Regions from separate parts of the Homo sapiens genome. Here all the other regions are linked to region 1. The links come from fine-mapping of genetic effects on gene expression. A gene starts in region 1. Each other region holds a variant in brackets. All regions are shown on one strand. Distances are between the middles of the regions.

Region 1 (8,136 bases):
TAATCGTAAACACTCATAGAGCCATTCAGTTGTACCAGCCACTGATCCATTGTTTCATACGTCTTAACCCATTTAATCCTTTCAATAAAATGGATTGTTGTATACCCATTTTACAGGTGAGGGAAGTGAGGCACAAACAAAATACAACAAAAACCAGGCCCAGGACAGGTGGGGCCAGCACACTTTGCAGTTTTTGAACGGATGGTACAGACAGACCCCCCCACAGCAAAGCGCAAGGAACCAAGGGGAACTGACTTTGAAAAATGATTTGCAAGATAACTGAATGCTCCAAACCAGCATGAAAGAGTCGACATGAGACGAAGCTCCATATTTTCTCATTTTCTGCCACGGGAAAAGGCAAGGATGGCTGCAGAAAGCCTCAGTTGCCAGTTATTCTCTCCATGGTTTGAAATTATTTTCATGAGTCTCTGTGTGTAGGTCTGTATATAAAAATCTGTACTTTCTAAGCTTATATGGTCAGGTTACTAATGGGCCGTGGAGTCTCTAGTGGGCCCTCTGCTCTCTGTCATCCGTCACCCTGCGCAACAGCTTGGCTATTTCCTGCACTCTTTACTCTCTTGTTCTTGCTCTTTCTCTGGCTCTCTTTCATGCCATAGAGGCTGAGGAAGCCTCCACACCTCTCCTGGCCGCGGCTGGGGCCTGAAGCCAGCATTCATTTCATGTTGGAATGCAAGGGCAGCAGGAGAAACATCACACAGTTCTCTGAGGATGGAGCACAGGGTTAGGCTCTCCCCAGGCAAGAACAGCCCAGAGAAGGTGGCTGGGAAGGAATGAGATTTTACGGGGGCAGAAGTTCTGCAGGAACGAAGCCTAGTGCCCAATGTCAGCAGGTAATGTGGGTGGCAGGCCTAAGCTGCCTCCTCTGGGCTTATGCCCCCTTCACTCCCTGCCCTGGGCACTGCCTGAACCTTTGGACAGACAAGAGTGCAGGCTGCTCAGAAGTGAGAGAAAGCAGTTGTGAGTAAGTGGCATCTTGTGATTGTGACAGCTGTCACCTGTAGTTCCCCAGGGGAAATACCTTCCTTGTCACATTCATCTCGATTCAAATCCTGCCAGATTTTCTAGCTGTGTGACTTTAGGCAGATTTCTCCCTGTCTCTGAGCCTTATTTCCTACAATATGGGCTTCGTCGTCACCAAGAGTTCAATAAAAGGTTAACTGTAGGCACTGCCAAGAAGCACAAGTAATCTAGAAACATCTATTTTTTTTTTTCAGGGACAGTATTTTTAATGCCGCATCACTGTTTAATTGCAATGTACAACTCTCTTACTCAGCCCAGGAAATTATATCATAAAACCCTAAGTTATTGGGTATTTGATTTTCTGTTTTTGAAATGAAAATGGATGATACGGAATTGGGTTTCAAGAACTTTGCACACCCTTGAGATAACAGTGGCATCCTGAGGGACAGAGGATCCAATTAAGATTTGGCAACTTCGGCTCCACTGATTCTGAGTGTCAGCTTTGCTCTCAGTTTAGGATTTTTTGTTTTTCATTGAGATATCAGCTAACAGCAACAGATGATCTCTCAAAGCCTGGTGAGGGGCATGGGCTGTTCCAGCTCATGGCCAGCCTGGGTTTCACTGGGGTCTGTCTGATAGCAAGTTTGTGTCCTGGGTTCATGTTAATGACAAGAGTTTGACCAAAGACAAGCATGGAGGGGTGGTGGTAGGGATGGAGGTGGTGTTCAGGCCTGGGCAGGGGACTAGAGAAGCCGACATCCTGGGGCGAGGACAGGTCAGCCCAGCAGTCCTCAGAGGACAGGAGGCCGGGCTTCAGAAGGGTGGCAGGGGCTTCCCCCTGCATATTTATTCATTCAGACATTGTTCTAGGGACTGGTGGCACAGCAGCAAACAAAACATGAAAAAAGAAATTCCTGCTTTCATGGAGTTTAGATTCTACCAGGGGTCAGGGAGGGAGACACAATAAATAACATAAATAAATAAAGAAATAGTATGTGAGTTGATGATAAGTGATGTATTAGTCCATTTGTGTTGCTATCAAGTAATACCTGAGGCTGTGTCATTTATCCAGAAAAGAGGTTTATTTGGCTCACAGTTCTGCAGGTTGTACAAGAAGCATGGTGCCAGCATCTGCCTCTGGTGAGGGTCTCAGGCTGCTTCCACTCCTGGCAGAAAGTAGCGCCTGCATGTGCAGAGATCACATGATGAGAGAGGAAGTGAGAGTGAGCGAGGGGGAGGTGCCAGGCTCTTTCTAACAATCAGCTCTTTAGGAAACTGATAGAGTGAGAACTCATGCACCCTACAGGAACAGCACCAAGCCATCCATGAGGGATTCGCCCGCATGATCCAAGCACCTCCCGCCAGGCCCCACCTCCAACACTGAGGAGCAAATTTCAACATGAGATTTGGAGGGGTCAAATATTCTAACTATAGCAAGTGGCAAAAAGAAGGGAAGAGGGATAGAGTGTTGAGGTTTTTATTTTGTTTGGATGTGCTTTTGTTGTTCTTATTTTTATTTGCTTTTGTTGTTCTTATTTTTATTTGCTTTTGCTGTTCTTATTGTTTTTATTTGCTCTTTTTTGTTGTTTATTAGATTTCATGGTGGTTGTTTCATTGTTTCAAAAAACCAATTTTAGAAAAGATGATATGTGAGTAAAAAGCTAAAGTAAAGAAGGCAAAGGAGACTCTTGAGGGGAAGTGCATTCCAGGCAGAGGAATGGGCAAGAGCAAAGGCTCTGAGGCAGAAACGTGTGGGAAGCTGAGCTTGACCCTCTCTGTTCCTGTGAAGCCATCACTTGGGTCCCAGCCCTTGTGGTCCCTCCTAACATTTTACGCCTAGAATCTTTCTGGTTGTAGGAAACTGATCCAGGCAGAACCTTCCAGACTGAGGGCCTGGAAGAGATTTGTAGGGACAGGCTCCGGGAGAGGTCTCTGCAGTTCAGCTGCATAAATCAGGGTTTTGTCAAGCTTGTTGCAAATGCACATTCCTGGATTATGTCCCAGGCCTGCTAAATCAGAATCTCTGGGGTCTGTGCCCAGAAGTCCGCATTTCTAAAAGCCTCCAGGCACGTTTGAGCATCTTCACTGTATATTCCACCACAAATCGATGTCCATGATTTCTCTCTCAGATCCTCTTCCTATTGACTAGGTGTATTAGTCTGTTCTCACACTGCTATAAAGTAATTCCTTGAGACTGAATAATTTACAAAGAAAAGAAGTTTAATTGACTCACAGTTCTGCACTGCTAGGGAGGCCTCAGGAAACTTACAGTTATGGCGGAAGGCCAAGGGGAAGCAAGGAAGCTAGCATGTTGTAACATGGTGTAGCAGGAGAGAGAGAGAGCAAAGGGGGAAGTGCCACACTTTTAAACCATCAGATCTCATGAGAACTCACTCGCTATCATGAGAAAAGCAAGCGGGAAGTCTGCCCCCATGATTCAATCACCTCCCACCAGGCCCCTCTTCCAACACGTGGGGAGTGCAATTCGAGATGAAATTTGGGTGGGGACACACAGCCAAACCGTATCACTAGGGTAGAATGTGCCATAGTTCATCTCTCTTAGAAAAACGTTTAGAGTTTTTCTTGAGGTGTCTGGTCAGCCATTTCCTGCCAGTGAAAGGAATCACTCTCCAGGTAGAGTCAGCAGGAGATAGGATTTCCTGCTGGAGATAGTGGCGGGAGATAGGATTTGCACATCTGCTCAACACACTCCATCCCGCGAGTCCTGTGCCGGCTGACAAGCGGTTTCTTAAGGACAGTAACTGTTCCAGGTGTATTCTGGGATCAGCGTGTGACACTCATAGGACTCAAAAGATGTTTGCAGAGATAGAGAAAGGGCAAAAGAATGAATAAATGTCACTCTTAACAGGGAGGAGCAGAGGCAGCAGGATTGTGAGTTTGGAAATATTTTTTCCCCAGCACATGGAAGAAATCCTCATTCTTTCAAAATTTTTCATTCCACCCCATCCCTTTCCCAATCCCCACCCCACTCCCAGAGATCCCCTCTTCTTACTCTTTCTATTTTCTGGCCTGTAACGGAAAGGACTAGAGATTTGGGTAGGGCAGGGGGCATACTAACCTCCAAGGGTCTCATGAGTTCAGCTCCATCAATCTCCTACCTCTCCCTATCGCCCCCGACCCTCCCTCAACGCATCCAGCTTACAGTGAGGGGTAATGGAAAGGATTCTTGAATCAAATCTCCTCCCTGCTCCTTCCTCGCTGTAAAACCTTGGGCCATTTCTGTGACCTCTGAGCCTCCGCTTTCCTATCTGTGAAATGGGGCAGGCTCGTGGGGCCTGGAGCATTCAGCAGGCGGTAACCCAGTGGGCGTTCCCTGCACGGTGCCACGCCCCCTCTGCCGCGCAGGCCACGCCCTCATCTATTAGGCTGGACCCCGCGGCGCCTGGCGGCGTTGCCATGGCAACGCGCGTACACAGGCCGGCCGGGCGGGCGGGGTGCCGGGTGCGAGCTGGAGACTCCGCGGGAGCGCGGCCGGGAGGCTTCGCCCCGGAGCTGGCCCGACGCCTCCCGAGCTGGCAGGGCTCTCGGCGGAGGTCGGAGCGTGGGCTTCCTCCTCCCGCCAGGTGAGTGCGGCGCGGGAAGGGGTGGCGGGCCGAGACCGGGGACCGGAAGGGGCGGCCCAGCGAGGACTAGCCCTGGCAGGAGGAGGGGTGGCTCCCCGGCCCCATCCTCCTGGATCCAGGCTCCGGTCCCCAGGAGCACCCCAGTAGCTACCCCAACACCAGCCCCTCCTTTCCAGATGCAGGCCCCACCCCGCCCGCGGAGGAAGCCCCCGGGAGCCTTAGACCCTCCTTGGCACCAGCCATGCCACTCTGGGAAGTCCTGGGGGTTACAGCTGGGATTAGGAGGGGCATCCCTGCTGCCCCTGACTTACGAACGACACCCACCCGGCGGTCAGAGAGACTCCCCCCTTGCCTAACCTCTCCCTTCCCAAATACAACACTGAGGAATTTCTAGGGCTCCCAGGCCACTTAAGATCTGGTAACCCCTCAACAGAAATTTTGCTTCTCTATCTCACTTGTGACCTATAAGCAGGGAGTGCAGATGCCTGAAGCTCTTTTGCTCTTTTGCATGGTCGGTGCCCTGTGTCTTAGAACTAATTTACAGAGTTTAACGCATCTAATCACTTTCTACAGTGTTTTCAGGTAGGAAAGTGACTGCACAGGGCAAGATTAAAGTGGGGAAATAGGGCCCAACCCATTCAGCTAAAGAAATAGACTTTTTTTTTTTTTTCCAGAATGTCATCTAGGATAAATACTGAAGGGGAAAATGAAAGGTAGTTACTGTCAGAGGTTCTTAGGCTACCCTGACTTACTTTTAAGCATTGTTTTGTACTTTCATTCATTCATGATTTACTGAGCACCACTATGTGTCAGGCATGGCAGCGCTGGGGGCCAGAGGGGAGTAATGAACAGACTGTGAGGAAATGCAAAGGGTCTGAGATTTTTACACTACTTGCAAGCTAAGTTAGCCTGCCACTGCTTAATGATGCTAGCAGAAGACCAGAGACTCCAGGACCAGAGACAAAGGATGTTATTACTCACAGCACAGCAGGCACTGTGAGCTCATGTTTGCGTTGGTTCCCCTTGCCCTGCAAGTACCCCGGGGTGATGCAGGACAGCTCAGGTGGATGCTGTGCACACTGCGAGTCTGTTTCCCAGCTAAGGAACCCCAAGCTCAGGAAACTCCAGTCTTTTAAAAGGGGCTGCTAGCCAGTGCCCAACCTTTGCCCTGGAAGGAGATGACCTTTTTTTTTTTTTTTTAATTGAGACAGAGTCTTGCTCTGTCTCCCAAGCTAGATAGAGTGCAGTGGCACAATCTCAGCTCACTGCAACCTCTGCTGCACGGTTTCAAGTGATTCTCCTGCCTCAGACTTCCGATTAGCTGGGACTACAGGTGCAAGCCACCATGCCCGGCTAATTTTTTTGTGTTTTTAGTAGAGACAGGGTTTCGCCATGTTGGCCAGGCTGGTCTCAAACTCCTGACCTCAGGTGATCCGTCCACCTGGGCCTCCCAAAGTGCTAGGATTACAGGCATGAGCCACCGTGCCCAGCCAGAGATGACATTTTTATCATAAATCTGCACTCTGCCCTGGATAGGGACACTATCCCTATCCTCTCAGGATATTTGCCCTACAGATGTCCTTGGAAGATTGTCTGGAACAAAATCTGTCAGTGTCTTTGCTCTGAAGATGGGTACAAACACAGGAAACCCATGGAGAATTGAGTTTAACAAAAACAACACAGTTTGGGCTCTCTTGGAACGTATCTCAGTGAAAGGGAAACAGTAAACAGCTAAGTAAAGAACAAGAAAATGACAGAGAATGATAAGCTCAAGGAAGGAGCCACAGCAGTGACACATGCTAGCTAGACAACAAAGTGACTGGTGACGCCTTTAGCTGGGGTGGTCAGGTAGCTACCGCAAGGCACCAGCTGTGGAAACATCGGGGGGAAGAGCTAAAAAAAAAAAAAAAGCCAGTCATTCAGATTTGGGGTTTTACTCTGGAGGCATTTCCTGTGGCTTTCCCACAAAAGAGACATTTCTCGAAAGTTGACTTTAGATTACTTTTACTTTAGTTTGGATGTGGTGCTTGATGATGTAGTCCTCTGCAATTGAAGATTAATAACTCAGGCAATTTGAGGGCAACAGGGCATGGTTCTTTTGGAAAAAGAAGTGTCTTTTTATCCCTATTAAAGACAGCAGACTTAAAAATAAAATTCTCATTATATGAAAGTATTAATATTTCTGAGGATTTCTCATAGGCTTCGGAATTTACAAACATAAACTATCTGGCTTGTTTTTATTTCTCTTACTCCCAAGGGTCTTTTCTTTTTTTGCAGAGGATAGAATTCTGGTGTTAAGGGCTATCTGTTATTTCATGTCCTAAGTGTCAACAAAACAGTGACAACCCCACTATCCCAAGTGACAACCTCTCCCTCCCCCCACTCAGTCACTCTCTCTGCTCCCCCATCCCATCCCCTCCCCACCCAGCAGTGATGGAGGTGTGAAAAGTTGAGCTGCCTGAGGATTATGTAGTGGTGACATGCAATGGCAATCTCCCTGCCCGAATGCTAGGGGACCTTAACCTCTCTGCATCTCAGTCTCCTTTTCTGTAAAGTAGGGACAATAATGACACCCACCTTGCAGGGTTTCTCTGAGGATGAAAAGAGTATATTCAAGGAAAAGTGCCTGGCACTTACTAAGGACTCCATAAATGATGATAGAGATGATGATGAAAAGCAGAGCCAGCCCCGAGAGTCCGTACCACCACAACTAGTTGATTTTTGTTTTTACCCATAGTCCAATAATTTGTCATTTCACTGACTTTTCAATTGAATGGAAAAGAGAGAGACTGTTGTTGTTCTTTGACAAGGAATTGAGGTGGAGGATATCACACTGCATCTTTAGACGTAATCTCAAATCGGATTCAAGCATCGAGATGAATTACTGTCAATATTTTAGAACTTTCTGAAGTCACTGAAGTGTTTGTCTTAAAAGATGTGTATAGAACTTATTTCGAAATGCACCACAATATAAAATGGATGGACACACGGATAGATGGAAAGATCTGTGATAAAGCAAATATGGCAAAATGCCGATGGTAGAATCTAGTGGTGGGTACATAGGAGCTCATTATCTGCTTCTTTCAGCCTCTCTGTATGTTTGACATTTTTATAGTAAAATGCTGGGGGGAATACTGTGCAGGGTCCTGATTACATGGCTGAGCTATAATCTTGATATTTTGCCTTTAGAAGTAATCTTTTTTCCCCTAACTAAATAAATGAAGAAATACAGCGATTTAAAAAGAAAAACATCATCTAATGCCTGCCTCTCCAATGATAACTCTTTAAGAAACTCCAAAAGCAGACATGGTGGTGTGCCTGTATTCCTAGCTACTCTGGAGGCTGAGGCAGGAGGATCAGTTGAGCCCAAGAGTTCAAGACTGCAGCGAGCTATGATTGTGCCACTGAACTCAGCCTGGGCAAAGAGCAAGACCTCATCTCTAAATATGAATGAATGAATAAAATAAGCTCTATAGAAGTTTAGGGTTCCTTGGATCAGAGTTTGAGAAGCCCAGGTTAACAACACTAATAAGAGTAGTACAAATGAGTGTTCAGTGTGTGCCAGGCACCA
Region 2 (8,136 bases), 120 kb after region 1:
GAGACAGATCTCCGCTGAATATAAAGACGAGTTCTATAATAATTGGAACCTTCCAGAGAAGGCATGGACTTTGTGCTTTAAAAGAATCGACAGAATAATTAGAGAATAGACTTTACCCTGTCCTTGAAGGTGGGGGATAAGGGGGCTGGGTAAATATGTATTCCTGAATGTCTGTTATTTTGCTACTTGTTTTTTTGTCTAGGAATTAGAATTAAAAGAGCAAAAAGAGGACGTTTTAAATAATAAATTAAGTGACGCACTGGCCATGGTTGAAGAGACTCAGAAAACAAAGGCAACTGAAAGTCTAAAAGCAGAGAGCCTCGCCTTGAAATTAAATGAAACATTAGCCGAACTGGAAACTACCAAGACAAAAATGGTAAGTCGGTGCCTTCCGGGAACGGGAGAATTTTTCTCTCAATGGAAGATTACAGTGCCACGAGAATGTGTGGTTTAGACCGGGGCTTCTCAGCCTCAGCACTGCTGATGTTCTGGGCCAAGTAGCTCTTTCCTGTCAGGGGCTGTCCTGAGCATCTTAGGATATTTAGCACCACCTCTGTTCTCTACCCACCAGATGCCAGGAGCCCTCTCCCCACAGTCGTGATCACCAAAAATGTCTTCAGACATTGCCAAGTGTCCCTTAATGGACCCCTAATGAGAAGCGTTGGTTTAGAACGAAATGTACACAGAGCTAGGATGCCCTCTCTGCACGGTGTTCTGAGATGTTGTAATGCAGGGTCCTCACAGGATCAGAACGCCTGGAGAGCCTCAGGATTGAGTGATGAGTGACGATTCCACAGGCTTTAAGACAATGCATTAAAGTGTAGGCTCGGCATTCGAGGCCCTCCACAATTAGGGCTCGATGTGCATTCCCTCTGTCATCCACACGTTCAACCGACAGGTTTCTGGGCAAGGAATTCATGAAGGTGAATCTCCCAGAAGAGCACAGAGTAAATTTCACGAGGGTGTGGCGTTGGAGAGAACAGCTCTGGGTGTGGAACGTGGTGTAGACCAGAATCATAAGGAGCTGACCTTGGCGGGAGCTGGGGGAGGCGTGGGGGGAAGGGAGTCTCTGGAGAGAGTTACGATGGCAGGACTTGATAACTGCTGGCAGGACGTGAGCACCAAGGAGAGGACAGTGCCGAAGGAGACTGCACACTTCAGGCCAGGGCGCCTGGGGACCTGATGGCATAGGGACGACATAAGGATGGGAGTATGGAGGTCTGGGGTCATGGTGGGGGGTTCTCTTGGAGCGACCCTCTTTTGGAGAAGAGGAGACAAGAGGAGTAAGGCGAGGATAGGGCATCAAAGTCCAAAAGCTCCCGAGATTTGGGTGCACAATAGTTTTGGGAGAGAAAGCAAGACAAGAGCCTAATCTGGAAGGCAGCCTCTTAGGTAGGGTCCTTGGAAGAGCAGGCATGTGTGAGTGTCTCGGGCAAAGAATGTATCTGTCATGGGTAGATCAGAGGCCAAGGCCCAGCACGTCACCTGGGAATAGGGAGCAGGACAGGGTGAGGTGGGAGCAGAAGGCGGGCAGTGAGGAGGAGGTGCTGGGATGGAAACGCCAAGGGGAGCCTTAGGAGGTTGTAGGCATGGGAAAGCAGCAGATTTGCCATTCGGGGGTCATTAGTAATTTTTTGTTTTTAAGAAATGCAAATTCTGGCTGAGCACAGTGGCTCACACCTGTAATCTCAGCACTTTGGGAGGCCAAGGTGGGTGGATCATCTGAGGTCAAGAGTTTGAGACCAGCCTGGCCAACATGGCAAAACCCCATCTCCACTAAAAAAAAAATACAAAAATTAATGGGAGGCCGAGGCGGGCGGATCATGAGGTCAAGAGATCGAGACCATCCTGGCTAACATGATGAAACCCTATCTCTACTAAAAATGCAAGAAAATAGCCAGGCGTGGTGGCGGGCGCCTGTAGTCCCAGCTACTCAGGAGGCTGAGGCAGGAGAATAGTGTGAACCCGGGAGGCGGAGCTTGCAGTGAGCCGAGATCGCGCCACTGCACTCCAGCCTGGGTGACAGAGAGAGACTCCGTCTCAAGAAAAAAAAAAATTAGCTGAGTGTGTTGGCGCACACCTGTAGTTCCAGCTACTCAGGAGGCTGAGGCAGGAGAATCGCTTGAACCCAGGAGGCAGAGGTTGCAGTGAGCCAAGATAGTGCCACTGCACTCTAATGTGGGTGACAGAGCAAGACTCTGTCTCAAAACAAACAACAACAACAACAAAAAGTTTACATTTCTAGCGGGGAAGAGAAACAAAGAAACAAAATTAAAGGCTTCAGGGACAATGAAACAGACGCTGGAACAGAAAGTGTCTGGGGCTACTCCTGATAGGTAGTCAGGGAGGGCCTCTCAGAGGACGTGATGCTGGAGCTGAGCCCTGAGAGTCAAGAAGGAGTTGGCCATGCAAGGAGCTGGGGAAGAAGTGCACAGGGCAGAGGGAACTGCATGTGCTAAGGCCCTGGGGTGGGGCCCAGTTTAGCACCTATGTGTGTGCCCAGGGGGCATATTATTGTTGCCGTCATACACAGCTCCCAAGACCTCACTGAGTGACTCTCTGTTTCCCAGATCATGGTGGAAGAGCGGCTAATCCTGCAGCAGAAGATGGTAAAGGCCCTCCAGGATGAGCAGGAATCACAGAGACACGGGTTTGAAGAAGAGATCATGGAATATAAGGAGCAAATCAAACAGCACGCCCAGACAATTGTGAGCCTCGAAGAGAAACTCCAGAAAGTCACTCAGCACCATAAAAAAATAGAAGGCGAGATTGCAACATTGAAGGACAATGACCCAGGTAAGTCCGAAGGGAGGCCAAGGAAATCTTAGTGTTCGGGGCAGGTTCTGATTGTCCGCTGGGTCCCAACAGGCTGATGGCTAAGAAAAAGGCCGTGCCTCATTCGAAAGCTCATTCATTCTCTGAGGCCCCCTTTTGTTCTTGTTACACAACGATGTCAGAAGCCCTCCGAGGCCCAGGTTCAGCAGAAGTCATGGCAATGAGTTGGGACATCCTTTGTGCCTACTCAGTGAGCCGGCGAGACACACAGGCTACCGGGGCTGTCAGGGCCAGCGAGGGCAGCGCGAAGTGGAATCATCTTTTCCACATGAAAACATCTCATGCAGGGGCCTTTCAAAGGTTTCTCTCTGCCATCGGCCTTTTGCATCTTCACTAATGCACTCATTACCAGCCAGGATTTATCCCTTAAAAAATTAACCCTAAAGAGGCTGAAAAAAGAACTCAGACTTGTGAGCACTTATTTGCCCCAAATGGCCAAGGTAAGCTGTATTATTGTAAGCTCTTGAAGAAAGTTCTGGAAGTAGAGGACTCAGGCCAGGGTATCCCAGCCTCAGCCCTGTTGACATTTGGAGCAGGATCATTTTTTCATGGATGGGACTGTCCTGGGCACTATCAGGTGTTAGCAGCCTCCCTGTCCTCCATCCATCAGTTGCCAGTGGCACCCCTACCCCAGTTGGGACAACCAAAAATATCTCCAGACATTGCCCAATGTCCCCTAGAGGCAAATTCACTCCTGCTTAAGAAACATGGCTGTAGTCCCCAGCAAGCTGGCAAGCCATCAGGACTTACCTCATTCATTCACTCACTCAGCTCTCTCGGTGGAGCTTCTGTTATGTTCCAATCTCATGTAGGCACTCAGGATCCAATGATGGACAAACCAGATTTTGTCCCCGTAGTAACAAAATTATTGCCCTGACAGGTGATCCAGGATGAATAGGGCACCATGACAAGGACAAAGAGTGGAGTTCAGTTTCCCAATCCAGAGTCCAGGTCAGAGGGAGGGTGTCTGAGATTGAGCTGGGGGCCAGGTCAGTGGCTCACGCCTGTAATCCCAGCACTTCCGGAGGCCGAGGCCGGCGGATCACTAGGCCAAGAGATCGAGACCATCCTGGCCAACATGGTGAAACCCCGTCTCTACTAAAAATACAAAAATTAGCCGGGCCTGGTGGCGCGCGCCTGTAGTCCAGCTACTCGGGAGGCTGAGACAGGAGAATCGCTTGAACCCGGGAGGCGGAGCTTGCAGTGAGCCGAGATCGCGCCATTGCACTCCAGCCTAGCAACAAAGCGAGACTCTGTCTCAAAAAAAAAAAAAAGAAAGAGAGAGATTGAGCTGGGACCTGAAGGGTGACGTCCAGGTCAGAGGGAGGGTGTTTGAGATTGAGC[T/G]GGGACCTGAAGGGTGACTGCATCTTTGTCACCCCCGTACTTAGACCAGTATGCACTCCACAAATGTTAGTTGAAGGGATAAACAAGTGAGTGAACACGTGAGGATAAACAAGTGAGTGAACATGTGACTGAGTAGTGAGACAGGACGCTAGAGGCGGTGCACTGAGGTGTAAATGGGAGGTGAGGAGAGGAAGGCGCTAAACACAGATTCTTCTTCCAAGAGAGACAGGCAGGCGGTGGGACCAGGGGCTGAGACTGCACTGCTCACCAGCTTAGCCAAGTGGGTCGCCGGCAGCTTCCATCACTCCGGTGCCCCTTTCCCTGTCTGTAAGTGGATTTGATGGCCCCTGCCTTCTAGAGTAGCTGGGAAGATTGCATGGCCACACACTTGGGGAGAGCCCCCAGCCTGTGACATGGCACACGTGCAGGTCTCACAAGGTGGAGAGGGCTGCAGGTGGAGGCAGGGTTTGTAAGTTGTGAAAGACACAGGTGTGCTTGTAAGCAAAGGGGAAGGACAGTTTCCTCTCACAATGATCACATGTCCCTCTGATACAGCCCCAAAGGAGGAAAGGCCGCAAGACCCTCTGGTGGCTCCCATGACAGAGAGCAGTGCCAAAGACATGGCGTACGAACATCTGATGTGAGTACCCGTGGGTGTGTGAGCGCCAGGCATTCTCACCGGCACCACCTGGGTGGGGGCAAACAGGCAACCAGCCCCTACCTGGGCCACATTGTCAGAAGCCAAACAAGGAGCCGGGCCTGCTGCCTTCCCAGTGCTGCTTCCATTTCCCCATTCCTTCAGCCCAGACCACATTGTCAGAAGCCAAACAAGGAGCCAGGCCTGCTGCCTTCCCAGTGCTGCTTCCACTTCCCCATTCCTTCAGCAAGGCAGGGCAGTGTCGTGGAAAGATTTAGGTAGACCTACATTCAGATCCTCAGACTGTTTTCTGCTATTTATAGCAGAATACCCAAAACTGGGTAATTTATAAAGAAAAGAGATTCATTTCTTACAGTTATGGAGACTGAGAAGTCCCAGGTTGAGGGGTTGCATCTGGTGAGGGCCTTCTTGCTGTTGGGGCTCTGCAGAGTCTGGGAGTGGTGCAGGGCATCACATCCAGGGGCTGAGCGTGCTAACTCAGGTCTCCCTGCCTCTTTTTATAAATCCACAGTCTCACTGCCATGATAACCCATTAATCCACTAACTCAGTAGTCCACAAATCTATTAATCCATAATTGTACCTTCGTGACCCAATCGCTTTATAAAGGCCCCACCTCTCAATACTGCCACATTGGGGGTTAAGTTTCAACTTGAGATTTGGAGGGGATGAACATTCAAACATAGCAGATCCCAACTCAACACTCCAGCTGTGTGACCCTGGGCAAGTCACGCCACCTCACTGAGCCTTAGCTTCCACATTTGTGAAGTAAGGCTGTACATGCCTAGTGCTTGGGAAATCTAGCTAATACTGTTATTAGCTAGTTTTCCCGAGGATCAGCTAGAGGCAAGCCCACTCACAGGTGTTATTAAGCAGACAGAGATTTCAAACAGTGGAGACCACTTGGTGGGGCGGGGCCCTGTAAAGGGTGAGAAGTTAAGGGGTCGGCTAAGTGACCTTAAATAAATGATTTCAACTCTCCTGACCCTGAAAGCCAGTGAGTCTACAAAGAAGTCTATCCTCAAAGAACTGACAGTTTTCAGAGAAACAAACGTATGAATGGGAAAGATCCAGAAAGCAGCACGTAAAGAAGGAGGCGCCGATGGGATGCAGTGGAGGGATTCAGAAGCTCCCCCAAGAGGAGAACCACCTGCCTGACCCTTGCACCAAATCCTAGTGACCGAAGTCTAATGTCACAGGGTTTTTACCCCAAAAAGACAAGGATACTCAGCCTCCGCATTGTGAAAAGTTCCTGACTCCTCCTCCTGTTTAAAATCTAGAAACGGTGGTGCCCATGACTTGGAGAAGACTCAGCACCACCCAGCTCTGCTCTGGTCCACTTCCTTGGCGTGTGAACATGCTTGAATTCTAAGGTTTTATCCTCAAGTTGGAAGATTTGTGGTTGCAGCCAAGAACACACTCACGTGGACACACACGCATGCATGCACACACAGAATATACTATATCTATGTAGTTATTTTCATTCTGATGATCACCAGTCTTTTTGTTTGTTTGTTTGACATGCAACCTGCCAGTGTTTTACTTTAATTCATAATAAACACAGTACCTTCTAAAGTCTGTATAAGGCGGGGCGCAGTGGTTCACACCTGTAATCCCAGCACTTTGGAAGGCCGAGGCGGGTGGATCACCTGAAGTCAGGAGTTTGAGACCAGCCTGGCCAACATGGTGAAACCCCGTCTCTACTAAAAATGCAAAAATTAGCCAGGCATGGTGGCAGATGCCTGTAGTCCCAGCTACTTGGGAGGCTGAGGCAGGAGAATCACTTGAACCTGGGAGGTGGAGTTTGCAGTGAGCTGAGATCACGCCACTGCACTCCAGCCTGGGCGACAGAGCAAGACTCCGTCTCAAAAAAATAAAAATAAATAAAAAATAAAGTCTTTATAAGAAGAGCCTGGATTTCAAAAGCCTGTGAACTCAAATGAAGTGGCATTAATACCTGCAAAGACTAAGGCTCCTAACCCCCTTCCAAAAGGGCAAGACCCACTCCCTGCAGCACACACATGACCTATCTCCGCCAGGCTGCAGTTTCTCAACTTGCTGAGACATGCACCCTGTGTTCTTCCAGTCAAATCCCCACCAAGGCGCCTCCCCTGCCATTCCTGCTGGGCGCCCTTCACCTCTCCACTGGGCGCAGCCTCCCTCCCATCAACCATCCTGAGTCTCAGGGCACCAAACGTGTGCTGCCCTCCAGGGGTGTGGGAGGGGAAGTTGTCCCATCACCATCACTGTCCCCCTGTTGCCTGGGCCCCTGTTGCCTGGGCCACACTTCCACTGGCTCCCAGAAGAACACCATTCATTCACATCTGGCCCCACCTCTCTCCACCAGGAATTCAAAGGGGCTGCTGAGAGAACAAAGCCACATTGTCTTCCTCTCTTTTTTCTTCCCTGTCCCCAAAGAATCCCTGAACCTCCCCAAAATAGTCTTCCCATGTCCCTCCACCATCAGAAGTCCACAGGCACATCCATTCATGATGGTGGGTAGTGGGTATCAGTCTCATGCAAGGCATGTTTGAGCCGCAGACTCAACTCAGCCAGATCCTGTGTTCTATCTCAGTGGATTTTCTTTTTTCTTTCTTTCTTTTTTTTTTTCTTAGAGATGGGTTCTTGCTCTGCCACCCAGGCTGGAGTGCAGCCTTCAACTCCTATGCTCAAGCAATCTTCCCACCTCAGCCTCCCGAGTAGCTGGGACAACAGCCACACACCACTATGCCTGGCTAATTTTTTTTTTTTTTTTTTTTGTAGAGACGGGGTTCTGACTTATGTAGCCCAGGCTGGTCTCGAACTCCTGAGCTCAAGTAATTCTCCAGCCTTGGCCTCCCAAAGTGCTGGGATTACAAGCACATGCCTGGTGCCTGGCCTTAATGTATTTTCTTAAATGAGGTGCATGAAAAAAGTCGTTTTTCTTTTAGAGTTTTTGAAGACTGTCCTCATCCTTTGCTGGGACTGGCGTTGCATGGACCGTGATTGAGAATCTCTTTGCATTTGTACTTGGCCCCTCCTGACACTCAGGAGATAACATGGAGTTTGAGTTGAACTGACTTCACCTGTTTTTGTGAATTTCAGAGATGACTTATTGGCTGCTCAGAAGGAAATTCTGTCTCAGCAGGAAGTCATCATGAAGTTAAGGAAAGACCTTACCGAAGCCCACAGCAGAATGTCGGATTTGAGAGGTTTGAACAATTTCTGGTGTCTCTTGACCTCCTGACCCACTCGAGAAAGGAAGGAGATGAGGCTAAAGAGTCGGCCGGGCGCAGTGGCGCACGCCTATAATCCCAGCACT
Region 3 (8,136 bases), 26 kb after region 1:
ATTCATTTCTGATCTAATATTTCTTTCAGTTCTTCTGTCTATGTTAGGCTTATACTGCTCTTCTTCCTCTAGTCTCCTAAGGTAGAAACTTTGATTATTGATTTCAGATCTTTCTTCTTTTCTTATGTGTGCATTCAAGGCTATAAATTTCCCTGTAAGCACTGCTTTCACTGCTTCCCACAAATTTTAAGTGGTATTTTCATTTTCATTTAGTTAAGATAATTTTTAATTTCTCCTGAGATTTCTTCCTTCACCGTGTGTTATTTAGAAATGTGTTGTTTAATCTCCAAATGTTTTGGGATTTTCCACCTATCTTTCTGTTACTGATTTCAAGTTTACTTCCATTGTGGTCTGAGAGCATATTCTACATGATTTCTATTCCTTTAAATTCATTGAGGTGTGTTTTATGGCTCAGAATGTGGTATAGCTTAGTGAGTGTTCCATGTCAGCCCAAGAAGAACGTGCACCTTGTTGTTGTTGGGTTAAGTGTTCTATAAATATCAATTAGATCTTGTTGATTGACGGTGTTGTTCAGTTTAACTATGCCTTTACTAATTTTCTGCCTGCTGGCTCTGCTAATTACTGACAGAGGGTTGTGGAAGTTTCAGCTGTCATATTGGGCTTATCTGTTTTTCTTTGCAGTTCTGTCAGCTTTTGCCTTGTGTATTTTGGCACTCTGTTGTTAGGTGCATGCACATCAAGCATTGTTATGTCTTCTTGGAGAATTACCCCTTTACCATTATTTATGGCTCTCTTTTTTTTTTTTTTTTTTGAGTTTCACTCATGTCACCCAGGCTGGAGTGCAATGGCATGGTCTCAGCTCACTGCAACCTCCACCTACTGGGTTCAAGTGATTCTCCTTCCACAGCCTACTGAGTAGCTGGGATTACAAGTGTGCACCACTACACCCAGCTAATTTTTGTATTTTTAGTAGAGATGGGTTTTCACCATGTTGGCCAGGCTGGTCTCAAACTCCTGACCTCAGGGGATCTGCCCGCCCTGGCCTCCCAAAGTGCTGGGATTACAGGCATGAGCCACCACACCTGGCCTAATGCTTCTCTTTATCCCCAGTTTTTCTTGTTCTGAAACTGCCTTGGCCGCAGTTAGTATAGCTACTTCAGCTTTCTTTTTTATTTTAATATTTTGGGTGGCAAAGTGTTTGGTGGAAACTTGGAAAGTGGCTAATAGCACAGACATTTGAATCAGGCGAACCTGAGTACAAGCCAGGTGACTTGTCAAGCGGGGTGACTTTGGGTAAATTCATTCTGTGTCTCAGTTTCCCTATCTACCAAATGGGAAACTATCTCTAGATTGTTGTGAAGATGAAATAGGGCAATGCAATAAAGCACTAAGCAATCTCCTGGCTTGTAATGTGTAAGTAATATGTTTTATTGTTACTCTAGTATACATATTAATATATTCTATTATTAATATAAGCTCTAGGTTGTTATATGATGGAACTTTAGTTGTCTACATGCAAGTACTTTTATATAAAAGCTGGACAGGGCACCCTGAGAAGATAAACTTAGAAAATAGTTGCAAAGTCTCAAGCTGGCATGGATGTCTGGTTGACAGTGCCCTTAAAAGATGAAGACTTTGGCCGGGCACGGTGGCTCACGCCTGTAATCCCAGCACTTTAGGAGGCTGGGGCGTGCGGATCATGAGGTCAGGAGTTTGAGACCAGCCTAGCCAGTATGGTGAAACCCCGTCTCTCATGCCTGTGATCCCAGCATTTTGGGAGGCCGAGGTGGGTGGACCACGAGGTCAGGAGATGGAGACCATCCTGGCTAACATGGTGAAACCCCGCCTCTACTAAAAATACAGAAAATTAGCCAGGCGTGGTGGCAGGCGCCTGTAGTCCCAGCTACTTGGGAGGCTGAGGCAGGAGAATGGCGTGAACCCGGGAGGCAGAGCTTGCAGTGAGCTAAGATCGCACCACTGCACTCCAGCCTGGGCAACAGAGCGAGACTCCATCTCGGAAAAAAAAAAAAAAAAAAAAAAATTAGCTGGGCGTGGTAGCACATGCCTGTAGTCCCAGCTACTCGGGAGGCTGAGGCAGAAGAATTCCTTGAACCCAGGAGGTGGAGGCTGCAGTGAGCCGAGATCGTGCCACCACACTCCAGCCTGGGTGACGGAGCGAGACTCTGTCTCAAAAATAAAAGACGAAGACTTCAGTGTGCCCTGCAGCTCACAGTCAGAACATTTCCCTTCATCCCTCCAGGGCCCTGCAACCAGGGGAACATGCAGTCACCTCCTTTGTGCTGAGCTTCACTCAGTCCTCTTATTAAAGTGAAATTACAGAGGAGCTTCTGTCCCTTGCCATCAGTTTGCAGACACACTGGCTGGGGCCCCTTTCCTTTGGGGAAACATGGTCACACCAAGCCCCCTTTTGAAAAGCGGGCCATCTGTGGTTAGGCAAATCCTGAATAGCTTTTAAAAAGCAATGGAAATAACTAATCGCATGGGAAATATTTATTGTACATCAAGGTTTTTCAAAGGTAGTTATAAAACTATGTATGTAGGGTGTGATTAATTTTGTTTAAAAAAATTTAAAAGGACGTAAGCATAGAAAAAAAACGTGGAAGGATGTGAACCTCAATGTTAACCATGGCTGCCACTGGTGAGGGTGGGATTATAAGTAACGGTAATGGCTTCTTTAGTACTTTTCTCTATTTCTTGTTTGGGCCATTTTTGCCTCCTGTCCTGGTACTGAGTACCACCATAAATACCCATGTGGAGTCAGGGAAAAAGAAAATGGCCAATTCCTTGACGATTTTCGGTTTTGGTAAAATAAAAAATAAAAATAAAAACAAAAACAAAAAGAAAAGAAAATGGCCAATTCCCTGGTCCCATATTTGTCCAATATGACTCTCCCAAGATCCCTTTGCCTTTGTGTTGCCTGATTTCCCCACTCAACAACTTAGGTACCTGTCCCCAGGTCTGGTGTCAGACAGAGCACATATCCCAAGCTCCTTCACACACTAGCTGTGTGGCCTTGGGCAAGTCGCTTAACCTCTCTGATCCTCAGCCTCCTCCTTTTAAAATGAGGATTGTCGTGATGATCTGGCGGCGGCAAAACAGGTAAGGCACTCAGCTCAAAACATTAGGGGCCGTGTCATTTTTGTTTTCATGGCTACGACTGTCCTCCTTCTCCGTTGCAGTCTCCTGACATCGACAACCACCATGCACTCATTGAATATAACGAGGCGGAGTGCAGCTTTGTTCTCCAGGACTTCAATTCCCGCAACGGCACGTTTGTCAACGAGTGCCACATTCAAAACGTGGCTGTGAAGCTCATCCCTGGAGACATCCTGAGATTTGGGTCTGCAGGGCTGACCTATGAACTGGTCATTGAAAATCCACCTCC[G/A]GTGAGTCCGGGCCACTGGGGGATAGAGGGGCCATGTCGCCTTCGTGCAGCCCGGCGCTCGGATGCAGCTGCAGGGTGGCGCTTATCCACATTGGTGCCACTGTGATCGCACGCTGCACACAGGCAGCAGAGACAGAGTGGACCCTGTGGAGTTCTGAGTCATTCTGGCGGGTCCCAGGAAGGAGAGAATCTTAGCACCCTCTTCTGGGCATTTCTTGGAGTTGCATCTTGGCTCACATAGAACCAGTTTTCCAAAAATGTGCAACTTCCTGAGAGGAGGCGGAAAACAAGGTGTGCTTTTGAAAATGCAGAGGTGGATTTCATTTTTAGGTAGATGAGCACGCTGCTCCTTCCTAGCTCTGTGACCTGGGCCAGACTTCTTCATATGCCCAGGTCTCTGCCTTCTTGACGGCACATGGCATCAAGAGAATGTCTGTAGAGCCTGAAACTCAGTGTCCAAGTAGACGCTCTTAACACATAAGCGCCTGAAAAGCCAAATCTGTGAAGTCCGAGCCAGTGTTTCCCTAAACATGTCTGATTATCAGAATTTGAGGGGGACTGTTCAGTAAAATTACAGGTTCCCGGGGCCCCTCCATGGGAGATTCTAATTTTGTGACTTGCCAGTGGGGGAGGAGGAGGATGCACAATATCTCTATTTCTTTTTTTTCATACAAAGGTATTTATTGAAGTATTATTTGTAGTGGCATAACATTTGAAACCTAAATGCCCATCAAAAGGGGCATTGTTTAATAAAATATAAGGGGTTCATTCTTATGTGGATAACTATGCTGCTTTTTTTTAAAATGCAGCTTTATTGAGGTATAGTTGACATACAGTAAAACTGTACATGTCCAAAGTACATCATTTGCTAGGTTTGGGAACATGGATATACCTGTGAAGCCATTGCCACAACCAAGACATTAAGTGCACCCGTCACACTACAGGGTTCCTCATGACCTTAGCATTTCTTTGCTTCCTTGCTTTGAACAGCTTTATAGAAGTATAATTTATGCAGCATAAACCCTGCCCATTTTAAGCGTACAATTCAACACATTTCAGTATATTTACAGAGGGGTGCAGCCATCACCACAAGCCACTTTCAGAACATTGCCATCACCATGTACATCCTAGAAAGAAACCTGTGAGATACTTGACTTTTTGTGTTGGTTTGTGCAATTTTTTATGTTTTAAACTGTGGTAAAATACATATAACATGAAATTCACCGTATTCACCGTTTCTAAGGAACAGTTCAGTGTTGAGTGCATTCACATTGTGGCGCTGCTGTCACACCGTCGATCCACAGAACTCTTTTCATTTTGCAAAACTGAAACTCTGCCCCTATTAAACAAGAGCACACTGTCTCCCTGTTGCCCTCTCACCCTAGCCTCTAACGACCACCGTTCTACTTCCTGTCTCTGTGAATCTGACTACTCTGGGTACCTTGTATAAGCGAAATCATACGATATTTGTCCTTTTGTGTCTAGCTGGTTTCACTCAGCACCAAGTCCTCAAGGTTCATCCATGTTGTAGCATGCGTCAGACTGTCCTTCCTTTTGAAAGCTGAAGAATGCTCCCTTGTATGAGAGACCACATTTTGCTTATCCGTTCTTCCATGGGTAGACACGTGGGCTCCTTCCGCCTTTTGCCTATTGCAAATGATGCAGCTGTGAACCTAAGTGTACAAATTTGGGGAGGGGTATTTTGTTTTAATCACATAAGTGTGTCACCCAGTGGTAAAGATGTCCAACCTTCACTTCTGAAGGAGCAAAAGAATGTATTATAAAAGATTCTGTTTTGGCCAGGCATGGTGGCTCACACCTGTAATCCCAGCACTTTGGGAGGCCGAGCCGGGCAGATTGCCTGAGCTCAGGAGTTTGCGACCAGCCTGGGCAACACGGTGAAACCCCGTCTCTACTGAAATACAAAAAAAAAATTAGCTGGGCATGGTGGCGGGCGCCTGTAGTCCCAGCTACTCTGGAGGCTGAGGCAGGAGAATTGCTTGGACCCAGGAGGTGGAGGTTGCCGTGAGCCGAGATCATGCCACTGCACTCCAGCCTGGGTGACAGAGCAAGACTCCGCCTCAAAAAAAAAAAAAGATTCTGTTTTGTATAATAGTTTATATTTTGTTAGTGAATGAGAACGGTAGAGTTATTATAATGGAATAATGAGGAGGAGCAGGAGGGACACTGTGCTAAGGCATTTACCTGCTTTCCCTTATTTAATGCAACAGCCTAGGGCATGGGCTCTCTCATGATCCCCATTTTGCAGACAAGGAATCTGAAACTCAGAGAGGTTAAGTAATTTGCCCAGGACCACACAGCTAGTCACTGTGAATTAAACTCTGTCTCCACTTGCAGGTAACAATTGGGAGAAAACCATTGGGTCAGCTGCTAGGTGCAGCAGTATCATCAACTGGTTTTCAAAGACAACAAAGCACACTTTTTTTTTTTTGAGACGGAGTCTCACTCTGTCGCCCAGGCTGGAGTACAGTGGCCCGAGCTCGGCTCGCTGCAAGCTCAGCCTCCCGGGTTCACGCCATTCTCCTGCCTCAGCCTCCCGAGTAGCTGGGACTACAGGTGCCCACCACCATGCCTGGCTAATTTTTTGTATTTTTAGTAGAGATGGGGTTTCACCGTGTTAGCCAGGATGGTCTCGATCTCCTGACCTCGTGATCCGCCCGTCTCAGCCTCCCAAAGTGCTGGGATTACAGGCGTGAGCCACCGCGCCTGGCCAACAAAGCACACTTTTACAGTCACTTGGCTGTACATGAATTTTAAAAATTCTTATTTCTACATGCAGTTGCCTCCTGCTTTATTAGCTAAGGGACTTTTGGCAGCCAGACATCTGCCCCCTGGCCCATGCCCAGAGTACCTCACAGCAGCCCGAGCGTTTCCAGGGGGCAAGCCGAGCCTCTGTCCCTGCCAGGTTTTCCTCAGAAGACCCCCTGTCCGCCTCCACCCCATCCTCACAAAACTGCTCTCGGCTCCCTTTCAGAGCATTCCTAGATCAAGAGACATTCGTGCAGGCTTCCTCTTAGTGACAAAGGGTCCTTTGCAGGCCTGAGTGAGGGCAGCCATGTGGACTGAGTTTCTCTTTCTGATGGCTTCCCTTTCTATTTGCCTGATGACCTCGACCTGTGAGCTATAAAAAAGAAAAAAGGAGGTAGTGAAGAGCGTCTCTCATCAAATCTCATCTCATTTTGGGGTCCAGTTTTTCTAAGAAATGTGTAGCTGTCTTGATTCCAGCATGCTCTTGTCTCTTATTGATTCTTTGAGTCCCTAGAGAGGGGGCTGTGTCTTCCCCGCGGTAGAGTTTTCAAGGATTGTTTCCTTTGGAAGAGGACTGTCCTAATATTGTAAGGCTTAGCTGTTCTTTTCCCAAGAAAGAGTTCCCAAACAGAAAAATTTATTTCAGGCTTTGTGGTGACCATAACCAACAGAGAGGGACGTGACAGCCATTTCAATAGGAAATGGGAGGTGGAGGCAGAAGTTAGAGACCCAAATGTGTTTGTAGACATCACAGTGGCTAGCGTGGGTGTCCTGAAGTTCAAGTGAGTCTGCCCCACACAGTTCTGCCCTGCTCTTGACCAGCTGTGGGATCATGCACAAGTTGCTTCACCTCTCAAAGCCTCAGTTCCCATTTCTGTAAAATTGGAATCCTAATAGTTCCTCATGTGGGGTTACTGTAGTAGTAAACGGGTCATTGTTTGCAAATTGCTTAGCCCAGTATCTGGTGCCTATGATAGCAGGAAGGTAAGAGGAGCACGCTAGCAGCCACCTGCCTCCACTGTGAGCCTTCCCATGGACAGAAAACCTCCCAAGACCTCCCAACTACCAGGTGGATGCCTTTGCAAATAACTTACCCATGGAGTGACATACAAGGTAGAAAAACAGAAAGAAACTCTTGGTTTACAAAGTACATTGGCACCCACGATATGCTTAAGAGTACACGTTATATATCATAGCTTTTTTGCCAAAGTATAGCCTAGGGGCCGGGCGTGGTGACTCATGCCTGTAATCCCAGCACTTTGGGAGGCCAAGGCAGGAGGATCGCTTGAGGCCAGGAGTTCAAGACCAGCCTGGCCAACATAGTGAAACCCCATGTCTACCCAAAACACAAAAAATTAGCCAGGCGTGGTGGCACATACCTATAGTCCCAGCTAGTCAGGAGGCTGAGGCACAAGAATTGCTTGAACCCGGGAGGCAGAGGTTGCAATGAGCGAAGATCATGCCACAGCCTGGGCAACAGAGTGAGACTCTCTCAAAAAAAAAAAAAGTATAGCCTAGGGCCACCACCTTGCACAACTCCAGTCACCATTCACAGTAGAGTCCACAAAGATGGCACCCCCTGGAGTTGTGCGAGGCATAACCTACAGGGCCATTTGCGATGCCCTGAAGCAACTGTTGAGTAGTAACACTGACTCCCTGCCTAAGTGTCAGGCGTGTGAAATCCAAGTCACAAAGTCAGATGTGCTTGCCGCGTTGTTTCTGCCATTATGATGTTTGCTTGTTGGTTTCTTTAGTGCTTTATGATTTCCAGGAAAGGAGCTGTGAGTGAGGGTTGTCCTGTGAACACTAGTGCTGTTCTTATAAAGCAGCTAGGTAAGGAAACCTACGTTGGCCTGTTCTGCCCTGCTCCCATTCCAGCCAGAGCTTCCCACATGACTTCTGGATGCAGTCCTTCGACCCTCTTGCAACCTCATGACATCCTGCCCAACATAAAGAGTGCCCATATGCCTGGCTACTCACTGCCTTAAAGGGGAAGCTCT
Region 4 (8,000 bases), 170 kb after region 1:
GGTCTAAGATGCACAGCCACTCTCTCCCAGCCATGTGTGTGCCCAGGGGATGGGGAAGGTGCCAGTGCCCCTCCCTTTGGTAGCTTTCCCCACCTCCTGTTCCCTGTCCCCCTGCCCCTGGCTCCTGGAGAGGGAACAGCCTCGTTCCACGATCTGGGTGCTGGTCTGGAGTGGTTCTGGAAGGGGATAGAACTGGCCTGAGGCTGAGTCTTGGGGGTGAGCCAGGAGGTCTAGCCCCACCTGGCACAGGCAGCCCAGGGCTGAGGGAGGGATGCGGCAAGGCCGGCTCCCGCTTGGCTGGGCAGGAGGTGGGGGCAGACCAGGGGTGTCAGCCTCAGCCACATGCAGCTGTCAGTGCCCCAACATCAAGCCGGAAGCCCAGGAAGGGGCGTTTTGCAACTGCACTGTTTGAGAAAGGCTCTGACCCTACTCACCACAGCTTGCAGCAGCTTCTGCATTTGGCCCCAAGGCAGGGGGAAGGATTTCTGGTTCCCAGTTGCGGGTGGCTGAGGAGTCCCATACTTTCCCAAGGTCCTTCTGGGGGAAAATCAAGTCCTTGACCCCCGGCCCCTCTGAACCTCTTTGAGAAAGTCCCAGGGCCCAGAACCTCTTCAAGAAAGTCCCAGGGCGCCCACGTCCTTGGCTCCACGGTGTTTGGTTGGAGTTCTTCTAAAGTTTCTTCCCAGCAGAAGACTGGCGAGATTGGGAGAGCAGGATTTCCAGGATTCCTGGAAGAGTAACGTGAATGCTCCTGGGTGGGCAGACGCAGGGGTGGGTATGGATCACTGTCTGTCACTGCCCCCATCGGGCAGTGCAGAGCTGATTCAGACACCACGGAGATCCCTGTGCTGATAGTGCTGAGGCGCTCACCAGGTCCCTCAAACAGCCCTGTGACACAGAGCTCTTCGTCACCTTTGTGCAGACAAAGGGTGTTAAATAACTCGCCAAGACCACACAGCTAGAAAATGATAGAGCCAGGACTGAAACCCAGGTCTGTGACTCCAAATCCCGGGCTCTTCCCCTTCCGGGTTTCCCATCACAGACATCTACTTTCATGTTGGAAAACCTTCTCCAACACCCGCTTCCGTGTTCGTGGCGGATTGTCCATTCATGTCCCCAACCCCAGCCCCCGTCTCTCCTTTCCCCCAGAGCCTGCCTTCTCCTGGGCTTCCACAGCTTCCCTGCCACTGGCCACCAAAACAAAGATGGAGCTGTTCTGGGAGAACCCAGACACTTCAAATGAGCGGGACTTGGGAGGCTGCAGTGTGGTTGGAAGTGGCATGCAGCTGAGGGAACAGTCTGGAAGCTTCATTTGCGCAGCAAACTCACTTTTTTTTACATAGGCTGTTTCTGGTCTAGTTTGATGAGAGGTACTCTGAGGGCGACTGAGGGGAGCTGGACCCCTCCAAGCTACCCCTTGGCACCTGCACTTCTTGCCAGGGTTCTAGGAGGGCTGATGGGGCAGGCAGGGGCCAGGAAGCTGGACCTCTAGGGAAGCAAGTGCTGCCTGCCAGGGCCCGGGTGAGGGTGGAAAGCTGCAGATTGTGTATTCAAGGAAACAACGCTTCACTGTGCCAACCGAGCCCAACCCCGCCGCCAACAGACGGGCTCTCGTGGAAGACAAACCCCCGTTCTGCTTCCGCTGTCCGAGTGGGGCTGCAGCCTCCTGGGTCCAAGCAGGGTCCTAGGATCAAAGCCAGGGCATCAGAGCCAGGGCTCTGGGGAGAGCAGAGGGCAGAGAGGAGGGGAGCCTGCCCTCCTGGGAAGCCAGTCACTAGAGCAGGAGGCAGGAGACCATGAGGTCAGCAGGAGAATGGGAGCCAGCCTTTCCTTGGGGGCCAGGAGCGAGGAACCTGGGCTTCCATCCTAGTCTGCTTGTCCTCCCTGGGCCTCAGTCTACCCACCTGTAAAAGGGGCAGGCTATCCCTCATGACCCCCAAAGGTCCTTCAGCCCTGACCTGCGTATGTCTGAGGGGTCCTGAGCCCTTCTGGATATTGGAACTGCCTTCCAGGGCCTTCTGGTCCACCCCTCCGTGTTGATTCAGCAGGTACTTCCTGAGGCTGGAGATCGAGGGGGAAGAGAGGGGATGGGGGAAGATAGACAGACTGTCAGCCATCACTGGTCTCACACCTAGAGTCATTCAGGTTCCTCCTGAGAGAGACCTGAAGGGTTGACTCCAACCCCTCTCCCCATTTGACAGAAGAGGGAACCAAGACCCAGAAAGATGTGGCGGTGACTTGCTCGGGGTTACGGAGAGGTTCTCAGTGAGGCTGAAACCTTGTATGATGAGGAGAGTGGTCCCGGTGTCTCAGGGTGGGGCTCCGAGGACATGACACACTTAGAGTTCTGGGCCAGTGCCAGGCACAAGGAGGCTCTGCGTCTCCCTGGCCCTCGCAGCCAGGACTCTCCATCCCCGTCTCCGTGCGGCCTCAGGCTACGTCCAGCATCTCTGATCCCCCAGCTGCTCCCTCCCTCTCTTTGCTCCTCCAGGGCTGGCTCTGGAACCCTCCTGTCAGAGAGGCAAAGAGAATGGCCCTGGAGAGCCTCGGGAGTGCCCACCCCTGGGCTGACAACAGCCTAGCGGGGGCTCTGGAGGGTTTTGTAAGTTGAGACCTGCTGGAAAGGTAGGCAGCCGTGTAATTCTGAACCTGCCGTGGAATCTGAGGACGATGCCCTAGATCCCTGTCTCCCGCCTAGCACAGCCTTGCAGGCCCTGTCCCCACTGTCATCCCCAGCCACTTCATCTCAGGACACCTTACGTCAGAGAGGCAGGCTTTCCTTTCCTTCTGGCCAGCTCTTCCCTGCACAAGCTCTGGAAGCCTCCCGCCCTCTTCTCCACACCTCCACCTCCAGGGGACACACCTCTCCCAGGAGCCCTTCCTGGACGCAGTCAGCAGGGCCTCTGGAGTCTGCAGCCCTGGGTTTGAATACAGCTGTGGGCTGTGGAGCCCTTCTGAGCTTCTGTTCCTCACGCTGGAACAGCGGGGACAGGGGGACCCACGTTACAGGGTTGTTGTATGGCGCTTAGCCCAGTGCTTGGCACAGAGCAAGTCGTTACTAAATGACTGTCACCGCCATCCCCAGCTCAGCATACACCCTCTCCTGGGCCCCTCATAGGGCCCTGGCAGTGGTCATTGCGGCTGGCTCAGAGGCAGCTCCACAGTGCCCACTGGCTGCCTCCACTTAACCACCAGCGGAGCTTCCAGGTCTGCCAGGTTGTCGACAACCCTTTGCTTTGGGCCCTAGTGACAGGACGCAGGGTTAGAGCCCTCCTTCTCTCCTGCTGAACAGCCACTCTGATTGACAGCTACATATGGCTTTGATAAATAACAAAAAGGGAGAAATGAATTCATTATCACCTAGTTTCAGGGAAGGCAGGTGGCACAAAAAAGGGGAGAGCAAACAACAGCTCTGGAGGGTGCACAATGGGGATT[C/T]CCGTCTGCCACCACCCAGCTGGGTTGCTCCAGGCAAGGGACTCAGCATCTCTGAGCCTCAGTTTCCCCTGGGGCTCAAGAACCTACCTGGTAAAGTTCTGAGGATTAGGTATAAAAACACCCTGAGTCTTTGTGACGAGCCCATCATGGTGTCTGGGCTGTTTGCATGATAGATGATGTTTTTGAAAAATACAAGGTTCTCGTATGTGATCATTCTTCCAACAGATATTAAGTTTTTGCGCTACAAGATCCAGAGAATTAAATGAATCAAGTTCCTGCCCTCAAGAGGCTTATAGCCTTATATAGAACAAACATGTATAGAGGTTTGGGGATAGAGAGGATTGCACCCACAAGGCTAGCAATGGAAGGTTTTTTTCTTTATTTCTGCCATGATTACCGAAAGCTCTCATGAATGACACCATGCTGATGTTCTCTTTGTAGCCAGCCCCCTGCCTCTGTGCCCCCTCCTTGTTAAACAGAGCCACTAGTTCTAGCCATTCCTGGAGGAGCCTATGCATATTATTTAGAGAACTGAATTGAATTCTCACACCAGCACAATGAGATTGATACTGTCTTTGTTTTCCTTTTTTTTTTTTTTTTGAGATGGAGTCTCGCTCTGCCACCAAGGCTGAAGTACAGTGGCATGATCTTGGCTCACTGCAGCCTTCGTCTCCTGGGTTCAAGTGATTCTCCTGCTTCAGCCTCCCAAGTAGCTGGGACTACAAGCACACACCACCATGCCTGGCTAATTTTTGTATTTTTGAGTAGAGACGGGATTTCACCATGTTGGCCAGGCTGGTCTCGAACTTCTGACCTCAAGTGATCTGCCCGCCTCAGCCTCCCAAAGTGCTGGGATTACAGACGAGAGCCACCGCTCCCAGCCTGATACTATCATTTTTATCCCCATTTGACAGATGAGAAGACTGAGGCTCAAGGCGATTGTCACTTGTCTAAGATTATATTAAGTGGCAGTGACAGGATTAGAACCAGATCCTCCTGCAAGGAGCCCCTGGAGGCCAAGTGAAGCCGTGTTTGTGGCTGGGGCTTGGGGGAGCCTCCGAGAGCCTTAGAGAGGTGGAGAGGTGGGGTCCTTCACCTGCAGCTTAGGGTCAGTGGGTGGGGAGAATGCCCTGCACCCCTGGGGAGGAAGGATTTCCTGGCCTCGGTCCTTACTCCGTTCCTCCCACTTCCACTATGCATCAGCCTCTGAGTCACCTCTCCTTCCCCACACCCCCGGCCCAGGACTTTTGGTTCCTCTTTGGTCCACCCTTCCTGCCTTCTCCGGCTTCCTCGCTCTCCTCCATGCTACCTGGGTCCAAGGCCTGGTGGCTTGGACTGGCTTCCACTGTGAGAGTCTAGGCTCCAGGACAGCAGGCCTTGCTGCCTCAGGGGATGTCAGAGGTCGTTTCCTCAAGGCCAGCCCTGCCGGCAGAGGCAGAGTCACTTTGCAGCCTCAGCAGGGAAGGTCCCCACACCCTGGAGCAGCTGAGTTCCCCTGACTGCCGGGCAACCTTCTCCTTGGCTGACTTCTGCTTTTCAAGGACAACAGAGAGGCAGGGGTCAGTGCCAGAAAGGTGTGGCCAGATGGGAGCCGGGCCGCCCAGGGAGTCCTGAGCCACAGACACTTCAAACCAGATGCTTTGCCTCCCGTTCAGTCCTTTCTTATCCTGCAACATTATCCTCGCCCATTTCACAGTTAAGGAGGCTGGACTTTCAGAAGGGTTATGTGACTTGTCCAAAGTCACATAGCCAGTGAGGGGCAGAATAGGATTTGAACCTGGGCCTCCCCGGCTCCAAGTCCTCTGAACCCTTACAGTGGCCCAAACACCAGCAGCTTCACCGCCCGGGAGTATGTTAGAAATGCAGATGCTCAGATTCCACCCCAGATTTACCAGACTGTAATCTGCAATTTTTTTTTTTAAGAGACAGAGTCTTGCTCTGTCACTCAGACCAAGTGCAGTGGTACGATCATAGCTCACTGCAGCCTCAACTTCCTGGGCTTAAGTGATCCTCCCACCTCAGCCTCCTGAGTAGCTGGGACTACAGGCACATGCCACCACATCCAGCTAATTTTTTTTTATTTTTGTAGAGATGGGGTCTCATTATGTTGCTCAGACTGGTCTCAAACTCCTGGCCCCAAGCCACCCTCCCACCTCATCCTCCCAAAGTGCAGGGATTACAGGCATGAGCCACCACGCCCAGCCCATAATCCGCACTGTAACCAGCTTCACCAGGTGTGCACACTGACGTTTAAGAAGCGCTAAGCCTCGGCTCAGGCCCCCGCACAGCCGTCTCCCCACCACTTCCTGAGGTTGACCTAAGGTTATCCTTAGGTGGGTGACTTTGTCTGAGCTGTAAGAGGATAAGATGTATGGAGTAAAGATTAAGTTACGTTATAAACACTGGGTTATGTTAATATTAGGCATTCAATAAATATTCTTTATAATCACTATCATAACAATAATGACTATGAAGAGCAAGAAGCGAAAGGGGGTGGCTGGCAGGGAGTGCCGTGGGTGCGGTGTGAGGTTGTTGAACTCCAGGTTAGGATGCCTTTGAGCCCTGACAGCCCCCCAGCAAATTGCTTGGGGTCTCCCTCTTTATCCTCCGTGGGGGAGCCCCAAGCGCCACACTTATGTGCTCTCTATCTCTCCGTCTCTCTCTCTCTCTCTTTCTCCCCCAACCCCATACCCCACTTAGCTGAACTAGGGCAAGAGATCAAGTGTGAGATTCCCAGATAGGACTAGAGGAAGTGGTGAGCGCTGGGCTTTCCCTATATGAGTCAGGCAGTCTGGGGGTGGGGACATGCAGGAACTGGGGAAGCCAGGGGGGCCTGAGGGCTCCTGAGCCCATACCCAACACCCACCCTGTCCAATTGTCTGTTCTCCTGGGACCTGCACGCCCAGAGCGGCCATCAGTAAAGCCTGGGATGGGAGTCAGGAGAGACAGAATTGGGGTCCCTGTGCTCCCACCTTCCCGTGTGCAGTTTTTGCAATGACTCTGCTTCCTTCTGCCATCAGACTGTGCAGTGCAGCTTGGGGGCACCTGCACGAGGAGCAACTTTCTTTCTTTTTCTTTTTTTTTTTTTTTTTTTTTTTTTTGAGACAGAGTCTTGCTCTGTCACCCAGGCTGGAGTGCAGTGGCACAATCTTGGCTCACTGCAGCCTCCGCCTCCCGGGTTCAAACAATTCTTCTGCCTCAGCCTCCCTAGTAGCTGGGATTACAGGCATGCACCACCACACCCAGTTAATTTTTGTATTCTTAGTAGAGACAGGGTTTCACCATGTTGGCCAAGCTGGTCTCAAACTCCTGGCCTCAAGTGATCTGCCCGCCTCGGCCTCCCAAAGTGCTGAGATTACAGGCGTGAGCCACTGCACCTGGTCGAGGAGCAACTTTTTTTTTTTTTTTTTTTTTTTTGAGATGGAGTCTCGCTCTGTCACCCAGGCTGGAGTGCAGTGGCGCGATCTCGGCTCACTGCAAGCTCCGCCTCCTGGGTTCACGCCATTCTCCTGCCTCAGCCTCCCGAGTAGCTGGGACTACAGGCGCCCACCATCACGCCCGGCTAATTTTTTGTATTTTTAGTAGAGACGGGGTTTCACCGTGTTAGCCAGGATGGTCTCAATCTCCTGACCTTGTGATCCGCCCGCCTTGGCCTCCCAAAGTGCTGGGATTACAGGCGGGAGCCACGGCACCCGGCCGCAACTTTCTAATAGTTCCAAAGCCAAGATAGGCCCCCCCTTAAGTAAGCAATGAGCTTCCTGTCCTCAGAGGTATTCAAGGCACTAAACAACGAACTGCATCAGGAATCTGATTTTCAGGAACGACTGAATAAGATGGCCTCTAATATCCCTCCCAACCCCGAAGTTCTCTGCTGTGTCCTGATAGGCATCAGGGCATAGCATAGTCGTTAAGAGTGCATGTGTTTGATCAGGCCTGGTTCAGAGCCCAGCGACACCCTTGTCACCTATGACCTGGGCTAAGTCGCTTCCCCTCTGAGCCTCAGTCTCCTTGTCGGTTCATGTTCATGCCGCTTCATAGGCTTCTTGTGAGAATCTGATGCAAAACACCTGGCATCGTGCCTGGCACATAGCAAGTGCTCAGCAGAGTAGCCAGGAATGATGATAGATTATGACGTGGGGCTCACCTGGGTGCAAGGCTGGGACATCTGCACTGTGCATGGTTGACGCCTCCACTGCCTACCCCTGTGACTCCCTAGTTATCAGAACTGGGGAGAGGGGCAGGGGCAGGGAAGCAACCAGCTGGGGACCATGCTCACCCCAAAGGGAAAGGGTCGTCCTTGGGGGGTAACTGGCTGCTCCGCTTTCGAGAGGGGGATGGATGGGGATTTTGTCCCCAGCATCCAGGGTGCAGCTAGCTGCTGAGCCCTCCCTGACGAGAACTATTCAAGGGGAGGCAGATAGGAATGCGGGCACGGTGCCAGGCCCCGCAGCCTCCCTCCGGTGCTGGAGAAAAGTGCTGAGCTCCCAGGCTGGGCGCTTTCTGCCAGTACTGCCGAATGGCATTGGCCTTCCCAAACAGGCACCAAGCTGGGCTCTCAGTCCAGC

The links. PIP is the estimated chance that this variant, and not a neighbour inherited with it, causes the effect. A credible set is the group of variants that fine-mapping cannot tell apart.
Region 2: its variant is the best candidate, but not a certain one, in a credible set for the expression of FHAD1 in testis (GTEx, PIP 0.82).
Region 3: its variant is the best candidate, but not a certain one, in a credible set for the expression of FHAD1 in transverse colon (GTEx, PIP 0.65).
Region 4: its variant is the best candidate, but not a certain one, in a credible set for the expression of FHAD1 in nasal epithelium (TOPMed, PIP 0.58).

What each region holds. Positions count from the first base shown.
Region 1 is chr1:15,242,831-15,250,966 of GRCh38, forward strand. It overlaps FHAD1 (forkhead associated phosphopeptide binding domain 1), which reads left to right and starts at 4,393. Exons shown (of 34, transcript NM_001391957.1): 1 at 4,393-4,565. RefSeq lists silencers at 4,228-4,401, 4,419-4,658.
Region 2 is chr1:15,357,908-15,366,043 of GRCh38, forward strand. FHAD1 (forkhead associated phosphopeptide binding domain 1) reads left to right here. Exons shown (of 34, transcript NM_001391957.1): 21 at 203-376; 22 at 2,571-2,796; 23 at 4,735-4,819; 24 at 7,920-8,026. Among named protein-coding and RNA genes, the nearest start is that of FHAD1-AS1, 18 kb to the left of the region's middle. RefSeq lists enhancers at 4,281-4,350, 7,006-7,506. The variant T/G (reference allele first, on the strand shown) is at 4,180.
Region 3 is chr1:15,269,162-15,277,297 of GRCh38, forward strand. FHAD1 (forkhead associated phosphopeptide binding domain 1) reads left to right here. Exons shown (of 34, transcript NM_001391957.1): 3 at 3,162-3,368. Among named protein-coding and RNA genes, the nearest start is that of FHAD1, 26 kb to the left of the region's middle. The variant G/A (reference allele first, on the strand shown) is at 3,368.
Region 4 is chr1:15,411,472-15,419,471 of GRCh38, forward strand. The region is part of intron 1 of EFHD2 (EF-hand domain family member D2); the gene reads left to right. EFHD2-AS1 (EFHD2 antisense RNA 1) reads right to left here and starts at 897. Exons shown (of 4, transcript NR_183705.1): 1 at 435-897. RefSeq lists silencers at 279-328, 5,542-5,836, 6,724-6,843 and enhancers at 4,836-5,335, 5,084-5,173. The variant C/T (reference allele first, on the strand shown) is at 3,436.